2 separate regions of the Homo sapiens genome follow, and region 2 is linked to region 1. A link means that fine-mapping ties the variant in region 1 to the expression of a gene that starts in the linked region. Tissue or cell type: whole blood. Region 1 holds a variant in brackets; the other region holds the start of a gene. All regions are shown on one strand. Distances are from middle to middle.

Region 1 (8,184 bases):
AGTGCTCAATGGTGCCCAGGCTGGAGTGCAGTGGCGTGATCTCGGCTCGCTACAACCTACGCCTCCCAGCCGCCTGCCTTGGCCTCCCAAAGTGCCGAGATTGCAGCCTCTGCCCGGCCGCCACCCCGTCTGGGAAGTGAGGAGTGTCTCTGCCTGGCCGCCCATCGTCTGGGATGTGAGGAGCCCCTCTGCCTGGCTGCCCAGTCTGGAAAGTGAGGAGCATCTCCGCCCGGCCGCCATCCCATCTAGGAAGTGAGGAGCGCCTCTTCCCAGCCGCCATCACATTTAGGAAGTGAGGAGCGTCTCTGCCCGGCCGCCCATCGTCTGAAATGTGGGGAGCGCCTCTGCCCCGCCGCCCCATCTGGGATGTGAGGAGCGCCTCTGCCCGGCCGAGACCCCGTCTGGGAGGTGAGGAGCGTCTCTGCCCGGCCGCCCCGTCTGAGAAGTGAGGAGACCCTCTGCCTGGCAACCGCCCCGTCTGAGAAGTGAGGAGCCCCTCCGCCCGGCAGCTGCCCCGTCTGAGAAGTGAGGAGCCTCTCCGCCCGGCAGCCACCCCATCTGGGAAGTAAGGAGCGTCTCCGCCCGGCAGCCACCCCGGCCGGGAGGGAGGTGGGGGGGTCAGCCCCCCGCCCGGCCAGCCGCCCCGTCCGGGAGGTGAGGGGCGCCTCCGCCCGGCCACCACCCCGTCTGGGAGGTGTGCCCAACAGCTCATTGAGAACGGGCCAGGATGACAATGGCGGCTTTGTGGAATAGAAAGGCGGGAAAGGTGGGGAAAAGATTGAGAAATCGGATGGTTGCCGTGTCTGTGTAGAAAGAAGTAGACATGGGAGACTTTTCATTTTGTTCTGCACTAAGAAAAATTCCTCTGCCTTGGGAATCCTGTTGATCTGTGACCTTACCCCCAACCCTGTGCTCCCTGAAACATGTGCTGTGTCCACTCAGGGTTAAATGGATTAAGGGCGGTGCAAGATGTGCTTTGTTAAACAGATGCTTGAAGGCAGCATGCTCGTTAAGAGTCATCACCAATCCCTAATCTCAAGTAATCAGGGACACAAACACTGCGGAAGGCCGCAGGGTCCTCTGCCTAGGAAAACCAGAGACCTTTGTTCACTTGTTTATCTGCTGACCTTCCCTCCACTATTGTCCCATGACCCTGCCAAATCCCCCTCTGTGAGAAACACCCAAGAATTATCAATAAAAAAATAAATTAAAAAAAAAAAAAAAAAAAAAAGAAAATCAGCTGGAGACCTCAACCTGCATTTTTAAGAGTCTGAGGGTCTTATTGGATTCATGCCTAGAACAGTTAGAGCCTAAAGGTATAAGGCTGTTGTCCATTGGCCACTGAGATGAGTCCTCAAGAAGAGGTAGCTACATTACAAATGGCCCACATTCACAGTTTATGAAAAGAAAGAATGCACAAGTATTTCCTGTACTTTTAATGTGATTCTCATGAAAGAGAATGCCAACCTAAAGCCATCTAAAGGGACTTGCCTATGAGGGCCATGTCAAGAACAATGGAACCCTAAAAGGAGTCTACCAAGAGCCAACAGTGAGGCCAAGCCCTGCCGACAGGAGAGGAAATCGTCTGTATCAGGGAAATCCAGGTGGGAGATGGGTAGCAGAGAGTGGGGGATGCTGAAAAACTCGAAGATTCCCAGGAAGAAGAACGAGCAGTCAGTGTAAACCTAGGCTCAAAGAAACAAGGATCACTGCATTACGAACCCCGAACTCTCTTATCTCCCTCCACTTCCCCCTTCAATCCCAGAAAGGTCAGAATCTGGGAACAGAGCCATGAATAGAGAAAAGTCCAGCCACACCCTGTTCTACTTGCTGGATTCCTACCTGAAACAGGCCTGGGTTAGAGCAGGGGAGAAGCTCTCATCTCCATTAGTAACAGAATTTTGATCAGTACCTAAGACTGAACATTAATTACTGAAATGAGACTGTTTTAGGCCTAGAATTAGCTAGGTCACTCTACTGTTTGAAAGAGACCAAAAAGCTTTAATTTCTTACATCATCCAAAAAGCCTGAGAAAGACTGTTCTCACATAGCCAATCTCAGGGGCCAAGCTAGGAAAGATTAAAGCTGTTTTCTGATTGTACCCTTCGAGTCTGGCTCATTTGCACAAAGGAGGCACTTGAGATTAGCCCTTTTCACGAAATACAGTGGGATGATGATAATATTACTATTACTTCCTCCCATTAAATAATTTCCAAATTAGATTATTTTTACCTATGTTCTTGGTGGGGGGGCAGGGTGTGGGGAGGGAACTTCTCTAAAACTATCACAACCGTAAGTGGCCCCTGACACAAGACATGCTTGTATTAACTAAATCTGTGGACACTGTGTGTCCAACCCTTTAAATTTTCGGCTGCTGATAGAAGAGAAAAAGCAAAGAAAAGATGTGAATGATTCCCATTAGGTGGCATCCCTTCTGAATGATTCAAACACCGGCAAAGGCGGCCCAGACAATTCATCACACTGGCAGCACCTGCTCCAGAGGCCCAGAGGTCTCTATCTGTAGAATAAAAACACAGGTGATGTTTCTCTTATACCCACCACCGGGTTTCCAGCTCACTCTCATCTCCCTCTTGGAACTGACTCTCCACTCCTTTTCTTCAGATTAACATTTAACTGCCATGATTAATATGCTTGTGCCAGCATTTACTCCCATCCTGACTAGTGCTATGACAGGGCATATGCAGCGCCCCAGGTAAGCTTTTTCAGAGTCAATCATCTAAGAGGCTCTAAATTATTTGGCAATTAAGCCATCACTGTGTTCCCATAGAACTCTGGCATTACAGGTTTGCTACTTGCAGAAAATCAGAAAAAAAAAAAAATACACACACACACACACACACACACACACACACAATTAAATGCATTCCACCCAAGCAGCACAATGACCAAACAAACTACAATGGACATTCACAGACAGACATATGCAAGCTGCTTACAGGATCCATAGGTGGCCCCGCCCTCCCTCATTCCGGCAGCGGCTGTGCTTGCTTACCTAGCCGTCTGGGCACCAGGTGAACCGGTTTAGCTCTGTTCTGCTCCTTCCACTTCTCCAGGTTGGCCAGCTCCTGCTCCGCAACTAAGCCAGGCGAGAAATATCAAATCGTCAATTATTAGACTTCTAAAAGAAAACCAGTCCCTTCAAAGCATAAGAAACAACTATTAGAAGGCAATTAACTATATGTGAGCATGAGTGAACAAGGCTTCCAGGTTAGAAACACAATATTCAGCCCTGACCCGTACAGGTCATCCTGGGCCCGGCCCTGTGGCACATTCTCACCAAGAGTCAGCACAGAGGGTTCGAATTTGAAAAACCACCTGGGCTCCTACTAAAAGAAGTATAGATTTTCCTACCATTCTGGCATTTTTAAAACTCTATATCAAGTTAATTTTTAAAGTTACCTATAGAAAATGTGTGCAAAACTAGAATATTTTCACGTCAATAAGAACTTTCCACACATAGGTAAACATATCCCCAGAGAATTCTGATGCCCATACTCGCTTTATCTTCAATGCTCCCAAGCTTACTGCGACTCTAGGGAATGAGGGCTCGGTGCTACAGGTGGAGACCCTTGCTCTGGTTTCAGGCACTCCAGACCACTGTGCAGAGTCGGCTTCCTGGGGAGCAGGGCTCATTTCCTAAATGTTCACTCTGCACGACAGCAGGGGGCGCCAGAGAGAAATTAGTTCTGTCACTCCAGCGCCTCCCCTTATCTCCTCATGAGACCTGTTTCAAATGTCCATTACTAGAAAAACAAATTCTGAAACATTTCGAAATCCAGACCACATTGAGACTTAATCTCCTATTAAGTATTTAAATCAAAAGCTTGTAAGATACCAGAACTGCTGGCAGTTCCCATAGTCCCTGCATGGCTGTGATTGTCATATTCTGCACTGACCCGCTGTCCCACCCGGAGCTACATGTCCGGTGGAGACTCTTTAGAGAGCTTTTTCCCTTTTGTGCCTTTCTGTCCATCATTAGTCATGAAGTTAAATTTCCTACCAATCATGTAATAAAGGAGACCATCGAATTTCAGCATAGCCCCACAGCTGGACTTGAGCAAGCCTACAATTTCTTTGTGAACTAAATGAACTTTAGTTCTCTTCCACCTCTAAAGGATAATGCTATAACTTTAAATGGCAGCATTTATATTTACTGTACATCAATTAAACATGTTATGTACGCATTAAGTACAGAGAGCACAAAAACGAGTAAGATGTGGTCCCTACCCTCAAGGAGGTTTATTGGCAATAAGTGTAAAGTTGTTCAAGCCAACAGAAATCCAGGATCTACCATCATGTCATGAGTTCTGTTACTAACGTAGAGAAACAAACTTAGAAGTGTTAATAGTAGAATATTTTTAAAGGTATAATCAAAACTAAAAAAAACAAAAAACCTTGATGAGATTTGGTGAGTCTATATAAATGAGAAAATAAAAATACTTCACACCAAAACAAACCAATTGTAAAAAGAGAGAAGCATTCTGAATGTTAAATGAATGACTATACATACTTC[T/C]TTGTATCTCATTTCTCCGGTTTATATTTGGTGCTATCAAGGTGTATGCACTTGTGCTAAAAGGAAGAGAAAAAAAAATGCTTATTACCATGAGAAACTACCAATGCATATAAGCCACCAGATATTTTTCCTTCTATTATACTGTATTTATGATCATTACCATCAAATAGGCACTATGAAAGATAATCTTCTTAAGACCCTGATCTGTTCTCTGGGACCTCACAATCTTGATGTCAAAGTAAAACAAAGGACATGGCCAAATATGAAAATATAAAGCATTCGATGAGTGACAAGTGACTAGTTGGTGTACTGTCCTTGTAGGGCTCCACCGTTCCTCTAGGTGGTGCTTGTGAGTAAATTCCTTTAAGATGGCTTTAGATTGGCATTCTCTTCTGTGTGACCACACCGGGGTACAGGAAACATTGGTACATTTTCTGTTCCCACAGACTGATCCTAGAGGCCATTTGCAATGCAGCCACCTCCTCTTGATGATCTGAGTAACTAACTGGCTTTTAGGCTTTGACTTTTCTAGGCCTATGTCCACTGGTCTCTTCTTCTCCTAGGGACACAGGTTGAGCATAATCAGGGGCTCGGAGAAGCAAGGAGTCATTTCAACCAGGCGGATCAGGGAAGACTTTTTAAGAAAAATATTCACCTCTGTGACACTAGGAAGCTGTTAAAATATTGTGAGCTTTTGAGGGCAGAGAGTGTGCTTGATTGATGTGTATTCCAAGCCCCTGGCACAGTGTCTGGCACAAAGACATTGGCTGCTTGATAAATGTGGGCTGAATTAAAACAAAATGATGCTACAGACCCAGCCTGTGAGTCTGTGTGGGGGTGGCTCTTTTTTGAGATGATGCACGTGATCCCACAAGAACATGAATACTCCATTAAGCAATAATATAGCACAGCAACAGACTGCAGCATACATGTAGGTACAGTTTTAAGAGAAATGCTGTGGATAAACACAACCAGCTTCTAACTGTAGGATTTAAGAGGGAGGGAAAAAACCCCACCCAGATACTCTTGGAAGTCTCTCTCTTCTACCTGAATACACAATTTCAAAGGGCAAATTAGCAAAGATTGAACTGTAGAGGCCAAAAGCACTGATCAACAGAAGCCATTTCCTTCCTTATCTCATTATTTTTCTAGCAGCTAGCCTTCAGCCAGCTTCAAACTGGGCTTTAATTTTAGACTTGTAAATGTGAGGTGTGCAACAGCCTTTGCATGCAAATGGGGCTGCTGGATGCCCAATTACTTAATGTATATCAGCAGACGTTGCATGTGTAGCCTAGCATGCATACAACGTTATGAATACAAAATTAGGAGACTGCCACTGGCAATTAATCCCTTGTCCATTGCACATTCTTTGTACACCCTAAGAAACATTTTTCACTTCTGAATTGCCAGTACTTTTTAGGAGCTTGGAAGCTACAATCCCGTGGGTAGTCCCTGGAAACTTGAATATGATGCAATGGTGAGCCATGCTACAGAGACTGAAAGCTGAAACATCAGATACGAGACGTAAATGCCAATCATGAAATTGCTACACAATCTTCAATGTCTGCTAACATTGTGGTATAGAGCTTCTCTCTATACCACAAATTTGACTATACTCCAGATCAGTAGTTCTCAGCCTTTATCGTGCATCATAATCACCAGGAGGGCTTGTCCGCGAGCTTGAGAGTTTCTAATTCAGTAGCCTGCGACTGGGTCAAATAACTTACATTTTTAACAAGTTCCAAGATGATGCTGTTCTTGATCTAGGTACCACACTTGGAAAACCACTACTATAGAGCAATCAAGCTATCTTAGAACATTTGGGATAAAAGAAAACTTAGGTATTCATAAATCACTGGTAAAGACACAGAGGTTGAATCTCAGGCCAAAGATCACCAGGTCAATTGAGCAACACTGATGAGACTCCAGTCTAAGACTTTTGACTTAGATCAGTTTTCTGTCTGCAGCTAACTTTTCAACTCAATGTGCAAAGCATAAAATATGACCATCCTTTAACTTTAGTCCCTTGATAGACTTCCAAACAATGCAACCTACTTAACTGGGCACTTATTATGGATTTATTGTATTAGGGGCTTGTAGAGAGTGAGGGGAGATTCCAGAACAGGGATACTAATCACTTTAACAGAACTTACACTTTAGTTAGGAACAAGTCAAGAAACCACAAAAGCACCCCACGAGAATATCCAACCACTCAACATGAGTTCTGGATGGGGAAAAAAACAAAAATAAATAAATAAAAAATAAATTAAAAAAGAATACCCAAACAAGTCTTAAAGTGGGAATGATGTAAGTACTCAGAGATCCAAAACAGTGGAGATTCATAGAGACCTCAGAAGAGTAAAAAACTGAATAGCACGAAATAAGAATAGTAAGTTGAGGCTTAAAGAATAGGATCTGAAATAGCAAAAGTGTTTCTTTGCCAGGACTTTGCCAAAAGCAGCTTCACAGAGAATTTTCCAAGTCCATGAGTCTCTCTTACGGAAATTTTGCAAAAGGTTTGGAGAGAAAAATCAACTCATTTGTAAAAGATTGTATTCTACAATATCTAATCTGGTTAAGTTTTTAAGTCCGACATCATACTAGAATCTTCCATCTTAAGAATAGGACTTCAGTCAATCTATGGCCAATGTGTGTAGCTTACAGGTACCTAATAGAGAAACATAAAATAAAGGGAAAGAATTAGCTCTGAATTTAGAGGGTTTTTACTGAAAGCATTTTAGCATAAACCCAGGCAGTGGTCCCAGTAATAAACGTTTTATGTAAATTTTATGTGAATTGCTCAGCAACCTTCTCAGCAATATTTTATTGACTGAAAATGCCAAATCTGAAACATGTTATAATAGTCCCAAGAAAGCATTGCCAAGTAAATGGTAAGGAACTTAGCTTCTATTTCTATTTCTTAATATAAGAAGAAGAGCTTAAGTCAAAGGATATGCTTTTTATTTTTTAATATCATGTGTCAGAGTGTAATGCCTTAGTAGATACAAATATTCATCCCTTCTTTCTTAGCTTTCTCTTGACATGAAGAGCAAGTATAATTTATTAATGTTTTCAGCCAATTAGTTTGTACCCACAGCAAAGGCCTTTGCTGTTTTAACCTATGTGCTATCTCTTCCAACAGCCTGACTCTCAAAGTTGCTAATCTAGACAAGCCCAACAACCAACATTTCGCATTCTTGTCATTTCCTGATTAAGCAACATTCAAGCCACTGAAATAAATATATATATTTGAAAATGAGTCTCCTTAATTACCTCATTGAAATTTAATGAAAGATCTCAATTTGTAAGATTATTTTCACTTTCCAACAGCGCACATCCGTGAGATATACTGAGGGAGAATATATGAAAGAACAGACAAGATAAAATGTTTTTCTGCACCATAAGAAACATAAAATAAAAAGATATTCAAGAAATGTTTGGCCAAGCGCGGTGGCTCATGCCTGTAATCTCAGCACTTTGGGGGGCTGAGGCGGGTGGATCACTTGAGGTCAGGAGTTCAAGACCAGCCTGGCCAACATGGTAAAACCCTGTCTCTACTAAAAATACAAAAATTAGCCGGGTGTGATAGCACACGCCTGTAATCCCAGCTACTCGGGATGCTGAGGCAGGAGAATCGCTTGATCCCAGGG
Region 2 (8,184 bases), 22 kb after region 1:
TCCAAATTCCATCAAGAACTCAATCTTGGCCAGGCGCGGTGGCTCACGCCTGTAATCCCAGCACTTTGGGAGGCCGAGGCAGGCAGATCACAAGGTCAGGAGTTTGAGACCGGCCTGGCCAATGTGGCGAAACCCCGTCTCTACTAAAAATACGAAAATTAGCCAGGCATGGTGGCATGTGCCTGTGGTACCAGCTGCTCAGGAGGCTGAGGCAGAGGAGTCGCTTGAACACGGGAGGCAGAGGTTGTGGTGAGCTGAGATTGCGCTGTTGCACTCCAGCCTGAGCGACAGAGCGAGACTCTGTCTCAAAAAAAAAAAAAAAGAACTCAATCTTGTCTGAGAGTCTATCAGAGGTACTCAGAATAATTTAATATATTGATAGCCACAGATTTTTACTAGTATACTTTCTTTCTATGCAAATAGGTGGTTTATTTATTTATTTATTTATTTATTTGAGACAGGGTCTCACTCTGTTGCCCAGGCTGGAGTACAGTGGTACAATCACAGCTCACTGTAGTCTTGGAGCTCCTGAGCTCAAGCTATCCTCCTGCCTCAGCCTCTTGAGTAGCTGGGACAGAGGTATGTGCCACCGTGCCCAGATAATTTAAATTTTTTTTTTTTTTTTTTTTTTTTTGGAGAGACAAGGGACTCCCTATGTTACTCCTGGACTAAAGCAATCCTCCCACATTGGCTTTCCAAAGTGCTGAGGTTACAGGCACAAGCCCCTGCGCCCGACCACAAGTAGGTGTTTTAAACCAGTGTTTTTTTTTAACAAGGCACAAACATTCGACTTAAGGGTGACAGCATAGTACTTTACCAGGAATAAAGTTATGTTTTACACATATACACGTGGAAAAATTAAAACCCTATGAAGTTGGTATTGTCTTATATTAAGTAATGAGGAAACTGAGGCATAAAGTAGCTAAGGATTTTGTTCAAAGAGCAAGTGATGGCATAATCAGAACTTGAACCCAGGTCTACCCAGCATCAGAGCCCATATTCCTAATCCCCACACTGGGGCTGCAGGAGGAAATTAATGGAAGGATTCCCACAAAACAAGACAAATCTTTTACCATATAAATAAATTCACATTATGAGTGGACAAATGAAACTGTACTATTAAAGCACTTTATCCTCTTTTTTCTTTTTTTTTTTTTTTTGCTTTTTGTTTTGTTTTGTTTTGTTTTTGAGACAGAGTCTCACTCTGTCGCCCAGGCTGGAGTGTAGTGGCGCGATCTCGGCTCACTGCAAGCTCTGCCTCCCGGGTTCACGCCATTCTCCTGCCTCAGCCTCCCAAGTAGCTGGGACTACAGGCGCCTGCCACCATGCCCAGCTAATTTTTTGTATTTTTAGTAGAGACGGGGTTTCACTGTGTTAGCCAGGATGGTCTCCATCTCCTGACCTCGTGATCCGCCCTCCTCGGCCTCCCAAAGTGCTGGGATTACAGGCGTGAGACACCATGCCCGGCCTCTTCATTTTTTTAAATCAGAAAGTGTTTCTAATTTTTATCCCCAAAATAAATAAAGCCTTCTTTATTTTGGGGCAGCGGGTAGGCAGCTAATTCTACTGAGATATTTGCCATTCATTTTCCTTGGTTTTCCAACTTCATTAAAGGAAACAAGTGAGAAAGTGAATCTAAGTAACTAATGGAGATGCAACAAAAATTCAAAGTCATCCCAACAGGATCTCAGACATCAAACCCCTAAAAGGGAATATATAATTCTGTACTTACTGCAACTGGTTCACATGAGGAAAAAAAAAAAAAAAAAGGAAGACTCTGTGAGAGATAACTAAACACTTCCTGGTATTTTTTTAATGGTTCATTTGAAAATCTTTTCAGGAATCGCAAAATAGTGTACAGTGAGCTCTTCAGGGTATTAAGGCCTGGATAACCCATCAGAAAGCTGCCTCTTTCTGAGCAATTTGATCTGGCAAGATTCCAGGGTAATTACAACCAAATAAGAAAACAGATGCAACAGTTAATACTTATGCGATGATATGAGCTTAGAAATAAATGGTTGTATCTAAATAAATGCTTTTTAACAGAAAAAAGTCATGCAAATCATGTTCATCGTTAACTATTCATGGACACGAGACCATATGTCTGTGACCTTTGTTACTGTTAAGTACTATAGCTTGTAGATACGTGGGTTACTTGAAAGTAATTGGCTGCTTCTACTGTGGCGAGACACTAATTATTCTGAGGAGGAAAGAAATGCAACAATCTCTAATTGATTTCCAGATTATCCACCCCATCTAAGGGTAAACCTAAGCTAAATAATAATATTAAAGGCCTGGTACTTTCCAAAAGCTAAGGGATGAAAGAAAATCTACTGTTTATCGGCCATAAGGTTATATACTGTTTCTTAGCAACCAGGGTTTGTCTTTCAGAGACTAGAAGTCGATGAAAAAGGAGAGACTAAAAATAAAACCATCTGGACAGTTCCAATTCACAGAGGCAGCACTTCAAAGGCAGTGATGTTGTGATAAACCATACTGTTGAGTTAAAGTTCATTCCATTGGCTAGAAAGAGAGGCTCATGACACTTGCTTAATAAATGTTTCCCGGATACTCACTGCAGTCCCTGAACCAAAGACCAGGAATAAAAGCTACCTATCTGTTCCTGCATAGAGCACATATCAACATCAGGGATGAGAGGTACTATGGTCACTCACCTCCTCACTCTCTCAGCTCCACTCCTCTGGTTGTAAGAGGCTAGTTTATCTGCGAGTCTTGCTGGGACGTAGGCTTGCTCCTACCTAGAGGCAGAATTTGAACCTTCTACCCCATATCACATTTCTTGTTGACCCTTACCTGTTAGTGTCTGATACAGTAATTCCGTTTAGGACACCAAGTTTTGTTTTTCTGTTTTGTTTTGTTTTGAGACAGTCTCGCTCTGTTGCCCAGGCTGGAGTGCAATGGCGCAATTTCCGCTCACTGCAACCTCCGCCTCCCGGGTTCAAGCGATTCTCCTACCTCAGCCTCCCAGGTAGCTGGGACTACAGGCACGTGCCATCACACCCAGCTTATTTTTTATTTTTAGTAAAGACTGGGTTTCACCATGTTGGCCAGGCTGGTTTCGAACTCCTGACCTCAGGTGATCTGCCTGCCTTGGCCTCCCAAAGTGCTGGGATAACAGGCTTGAGCCAACGCGCCTGGCCCAGCACCAAATTTTTAAAAACAGTAAGGGAAAAGTTATTTCCATACTGGTTGGAGTATGAGTTCTGGAGATACCTGGAAAATGACATCTTACTGGATGCCTAGGCAGTTCCGACACACCCATATCTTTCAATCCTGTAGCCAGTCACAAAAATCAGGAAAGTAGTATTCCTGGAAGGAACCGGGCTGGTTATTTACCAAAGGACTGCAAACTAGCCGACTCAATTTATAAGGTGCGGCATGGATACTTTCATTTAAGCAAATGAGCTTTCATTCAGTCAAAATCCCTGTTGTTGGGCCCCTGTGGTTTTAAACTCCAAGGACCAAGGTGCTTGTGAGTGAGTATGTTTGGGGCCCGGGCTCCCGCCCCGAAGCCAGGTTGTTAAAATACTCACCGCCTCTGGCCCGCGTGCACGACGCTCTCCCGCGAAGGGCCCTTAGGGGCTGCCTCCAAACCCTCTCTCTGGTCTTCCACGGGGCTCAGCTCCCCTTGCCGCCCAGAAGGGTCCTGGGGATCCCGGGTCGGGCGGGAGGCAGGGGAGGCGCCGAGCCCGGAGTTCACCACTCTATTGCGGGTGTTCATGGTTCACAGCCCGCGGGTCCCGGGCCGCCGTCGCTGCGGGAGGGATGCGGCTGGGACGCTTAGCGAGTCTCAAGATGGGATTCCAAAGTGCAGAGGCAGCGGTTTTAACAGCTGAGTTTCGGTTTCTCAGAATCAGCAGCAGACTGCGCCCGCCCCAGAGAACTTCCCCACGTATTCTCCACTGAGGCCCCGTCCGACCTTATCGCGGGTTAACAGCCCAGGATGTTGACTTGAGCTGGCTTGGTCGGCTACAGGTGAGACGGTTTAAAGTCTCACAATCACCTTAGAGGTTAATCAGAATAACTGGGATCAGCCACGGACACCTGGTGAGCGATTAGCCCGCAGAGTGACTACAATCCTGAAAGATACTTGAGAAACTGTTTAACAGGCAACTCTAATTTGAGGTTACCGCTGGATATTTGAGACTGTAAAAAATATATTAACCTTAAAATACCAGAGATTAGGTCAATAACTAAAATCATCTCAACAAAATGTCGCCTTTTATCAGTAATGACTGCTGTGTGGCTGTTACCAATGCACATACTTTCAAGTTAGAGGAAATGGAAACTGAAATCAAAAGAAAACAAAAACCTACAAAGCCGGAGAAGTAAGCTAAGGTAGACATGATTCTCCAGGCAGCCTTGCTAAGTAATTGACTAGACATTCGAGAACTATTAAAAATACCTGCTCTGTGCAGAACAGTGTGCAACGGTGATGTGGGGACATTTTAAAATATGGATGTGTAAGGCTCAGTTCCTGTAGGTTCAGGGGTGAGCTCTGGCATTCATATTTTTGAAAAGCTCCCAGATGATTCTGATGTGTGCCAGGGTTGGTCACCAGGGTCACAATGCCGTCTACACAAAGATGAGTGAAGGCTCTTCCCTCATGCTACCTGCATTCTAGGAGTATCCTAGTAGACAGGTAAACAAATGGGAATGCCACTTTGGGATAAATGAAATGACAGGCAGCTGTGGAGGCACAGAGAAACTGGGGATTAGCCCTCTGAGTAATTCAGGAACAGGGACATTTGAGAATGAGCCACCAAAGACATAGGAATTCACCAAGAAGAAGGAGATGCTATGGCAGAGGCTTGTCACTTAAAATGACATGGTGTGTACTTAATTCCAGGGGTTGTCATGTGGCTGGAGCACCCCAGTCCTAGGTCAGCAAGACAGTTAGGAGCTGGACTGTCTTCCTTATATTATTGGTGCTTAGAACAAAAAGACACATACAGGTTTGATAGCTAATGAAAGAATGAAATTGAAGGGTGGGCCAGGGTGGGACAGGAGAGGAGAAAATAATGACAAGGAACATGGTAGGAAAGTCAGTCAGGATTTCTATGCCATCCTAAGACATTAGGGTTTTGTAGAGTAGGCCAGAGTTTCACAAATTTCAGTAAGCATCAGAACCACTTGGAGGAGGGTGCGTTAAAACAGATTTATGGCCAGGCACGGTGGCTCACTCCTGTAATTCCAGTACTTTTGGAGGCCGAGGCAGGAGGATTACCTGGAGATCAGGAGTTGAAGACCAGCCTAGCCAACGTGGCGAAACCCCACCTCCACCTGGGCGACAGAGAGAGACTCCATCTCAAAAATATATATATATAGTTTCTGATTCAGGTCTGGGATGGGGCCCAAGGATTTGCATTTCTAACAAATTTCCAGGTGATACCAATGATGCCAGTCTCAGGATCACCCTTTGGGAACCACTGTTGTAGGCAATGTGGAAGGCACAGGAAGTTTTTCAATAGGGCAGTTACTCAATAATATCTGTTTTACAAAGTTAGCTTCTAACAATGTGAAAACGGAGATTGAAAGATGAAGAGACTGAAATCGGGAAGATAAATTCAGAGCCTAGTTACGTCTAGGTAAGAAATACAGATCTGAGCTAAGGCAACCCAGAAAGTGGGGAGCAAAATCAAGACATTTCACATGGGCCAGGCTCAGTTGCTCATGCCTGTAATCCCAGCACTTTTGGAGGCTGAGGCAGGAGGATCACCTGAGGCCAGGAGTTTAAGGCCAGCCTGGGCAGCATGGTAAGACCTCATCTCTACAAAACAAATAAATAAAACATAAAAGACATTTCACATGAGAGATTAGCATAGATAAAAACTAGATGAAAGAGAGAATTGAGTACTGGAAGGCAGCAGAGAGAAGGGGAGATGGCTTTTATAGTGCTTTGAGACCAGCTTTGCCACATACTGGCCACACAACCAAGGCCAAATCTCTTAATTCCTCAGAGATCCAGTTTCCTCCTCTGCCTCATGTGGGTATTGTGAGGAATAGAGATCATCCACATCAGTGGTTCTCAAATGGAGTTGATTTTTCCTCTAGCAGACATCTGGCAATGCCTGGACATATTTTTGATTGTGAAGCCTCAAAGTGGGTAGGTGCTGCTAGCATCTAGTGTGTAAAGGCCGGGGATGCTCCTAAACATCCTACAATGCACAGAATAGGCCCACATGACAAAGAGTTGTCCTGCCCCACGTGTCAACAGTGTTGAAGTTGAAAAATCCTGATCTTCACAGTATGCCTACCTTATAGCCCCAGTAATTTAATGGTTGCTGTCTTTATGGTGACTTTTAGCTTTGTGACTGGATACGAGGTAGAACCATTAACCTAGAGGAGGGACAAGCTTTGAGGGAAGTTCTAAAAGTCTGTTTAGGTGCTGTTGGGTGTAAGGTACCAGCGGGGTGAGAAACGCAGACCTAGAGATCAACAAAAAAGAGGAACAGCAGGGCCTTTCTGGAGGCCATCTTCCACATTGTTCTTTACTAGGAAAATACCCCTGGAACTCTTGTTTCAAAGGAGAAAATTATTTTGGTGGTTGGATGAAATTTAAAGTTTGAGGAAGGGAAAACCCACACTGGGGGAAAACTGATTCTCCTAAAGGAGCTAGTAATAGGGATGTTGGCCTCAAGAATATACTTAGTTAACCATATTTGTTTCACAACACAACCACATGTCACACCAAAGTTTCAAACCTGAGATTTCTCACTCCATTCACTTCTTGTTTTACCTGAGATTTCTCACTCCATTCACTTCTTGTTTTGCCACATTCTCAAAGTGTTTTAAAAAATGTGAATGTGAGGCTGGATGCGGTGGCTCACACCTGTAATCCCAGCACTTTGGGAGGCCGAGGCAGGCGGATCACGAGGTCAGGAGATCGAGACCATCCTGGCTAATACGGTGAAACCCTGTCTCTACTAAAAATACAAAAAATTAGCCGGGCGTGGTGGTGGGCGCCTGTAGTTCCAGCTATTCCGAAGGCTGAGGCAGGAGAATGGCGTGAACCCGGGAGGCGGAGCTTGCAGTGAGCCGAAATCATGCCACTGCACTCCGGCCTGGGTGACAGAGCGAGACTCCGTCTCAACAACAACAACAAAAAAAAGTGAATGTGATTTATTATGGCAACAGACATCTACAGGCTCCTTTTGGATGCCCGAGAATGGGCTACTTGTGTATCATCCATTCTTTCACCGTAGGTGTGTGCATTTGGGCGAAAATAAGGGCTGGCCTTTTACTGGAGTTGTTCTTGGGTGCGTTTTTCTATAGTAGTGGCTGGTGGAGAGAAGCAGAGGTGAGTGGGGAGGGTCCTGGGCCCCTATCCCTATTTAGCCAAGTACTTTAGCCCCTTATCTCTTCTACTCACTAGGCCACTGCCTAATTTTGTTTGAGGCAAGAATTCAATGGCTTTTAAAAGTTTGAAAAACCACCATACTAGACAATTACCTAGGAATATGTTTTAAGAGACATGAGAAAGAAGTGAAATCTAGTGGGATTGTTACCTTACCTGAAATTTGGCCAATTAGAGATTCATTTAGGAAATGTTTTTCTTTTCAAATGAAACTGCCTCTGGGAAATAATCATGTATTCGTTCCTTTTGGTAAATGAGTTTAATCTGAGCAAAAGACATTTTGGCTGGGGAAGAGGAGAACTGAGTGAAAAGAAAAAGGATTCCAAAAGTTGTGTAAAGAAAAACATAAAATGAGGCATTGTTGGGGAATGGAAATTCAGAAATACAATGAGCAATTTTAGCCAGCCCTATGAGCTTTAAGAGAGAAGATTAAATCAAAAAGAAACTTTACCAATTTATTTTACTGCAAACATGTCTAAGTGTGTCTTCTTTCAAGAAAATAAATGGGAATATATGTCTGATTTTTAAATTAATTGCCTTAGATTACTCCTGCATTAATATGTACAAATATAGAGAGAGATACATAAACTCTAAGACTTTTCTTGTCATAAAATGTGTAAATGAAAAAAATCTTAGTTTTTGAAAATTCTAAAAAGTCACATTTCCTTAAATTTGATTCTTCAGTGGAAAGTTAGATTAATCTAAGAGATTTAGGACAGCAGTTATCTAAAGGTTTTTTTTTTCTCTTCTAACAAAGGAGTTATGTAAAACTCTGAATATTTGGTATCTCCTCATTTTTAGTGTGT

Evidence for each region. PIP is the estimated chance that this variant, and not a neighbour inherited with it, causes the effect.
Region 2: EPSTI1 starts here. The variant in region 1 is fine-mapped to the expression of EPSTI1 in whole blood (TOPMed, PIP above 0.99).

The regions. Positions count from the first base shown.
Region 1 is chr13:42,966,081-42,974,264 of GRCh38, forward strand. It overlaps EPSTI1 (epithelial stromal interaction 1), which reads right to left. Exons shown (of 11, transcript NM_033255.5): 2 at 4,532-4,590; 3 at 3,014-3,097. Among named protein-coding and RNA genes, the nearest start is that of EPSTI1, 22 kb to the right of the region's middle. The variant T/C (reference allele first, on the strand shown) is at 4,535.
Region 2 is chr13:42,988,424-42,996,607 of GRCh38, forward strand. It overlaps EPSTI1 (epithelial stromal interaction 1), which reads right to left and starts at 3,818. Exons shown (of 11, transcript NM_033255.5): 1 at 3,555-3,818. The coding sequence starts at 3,742. RefSeq lists enhancers at 3,832-3,951, 4,212-4,451.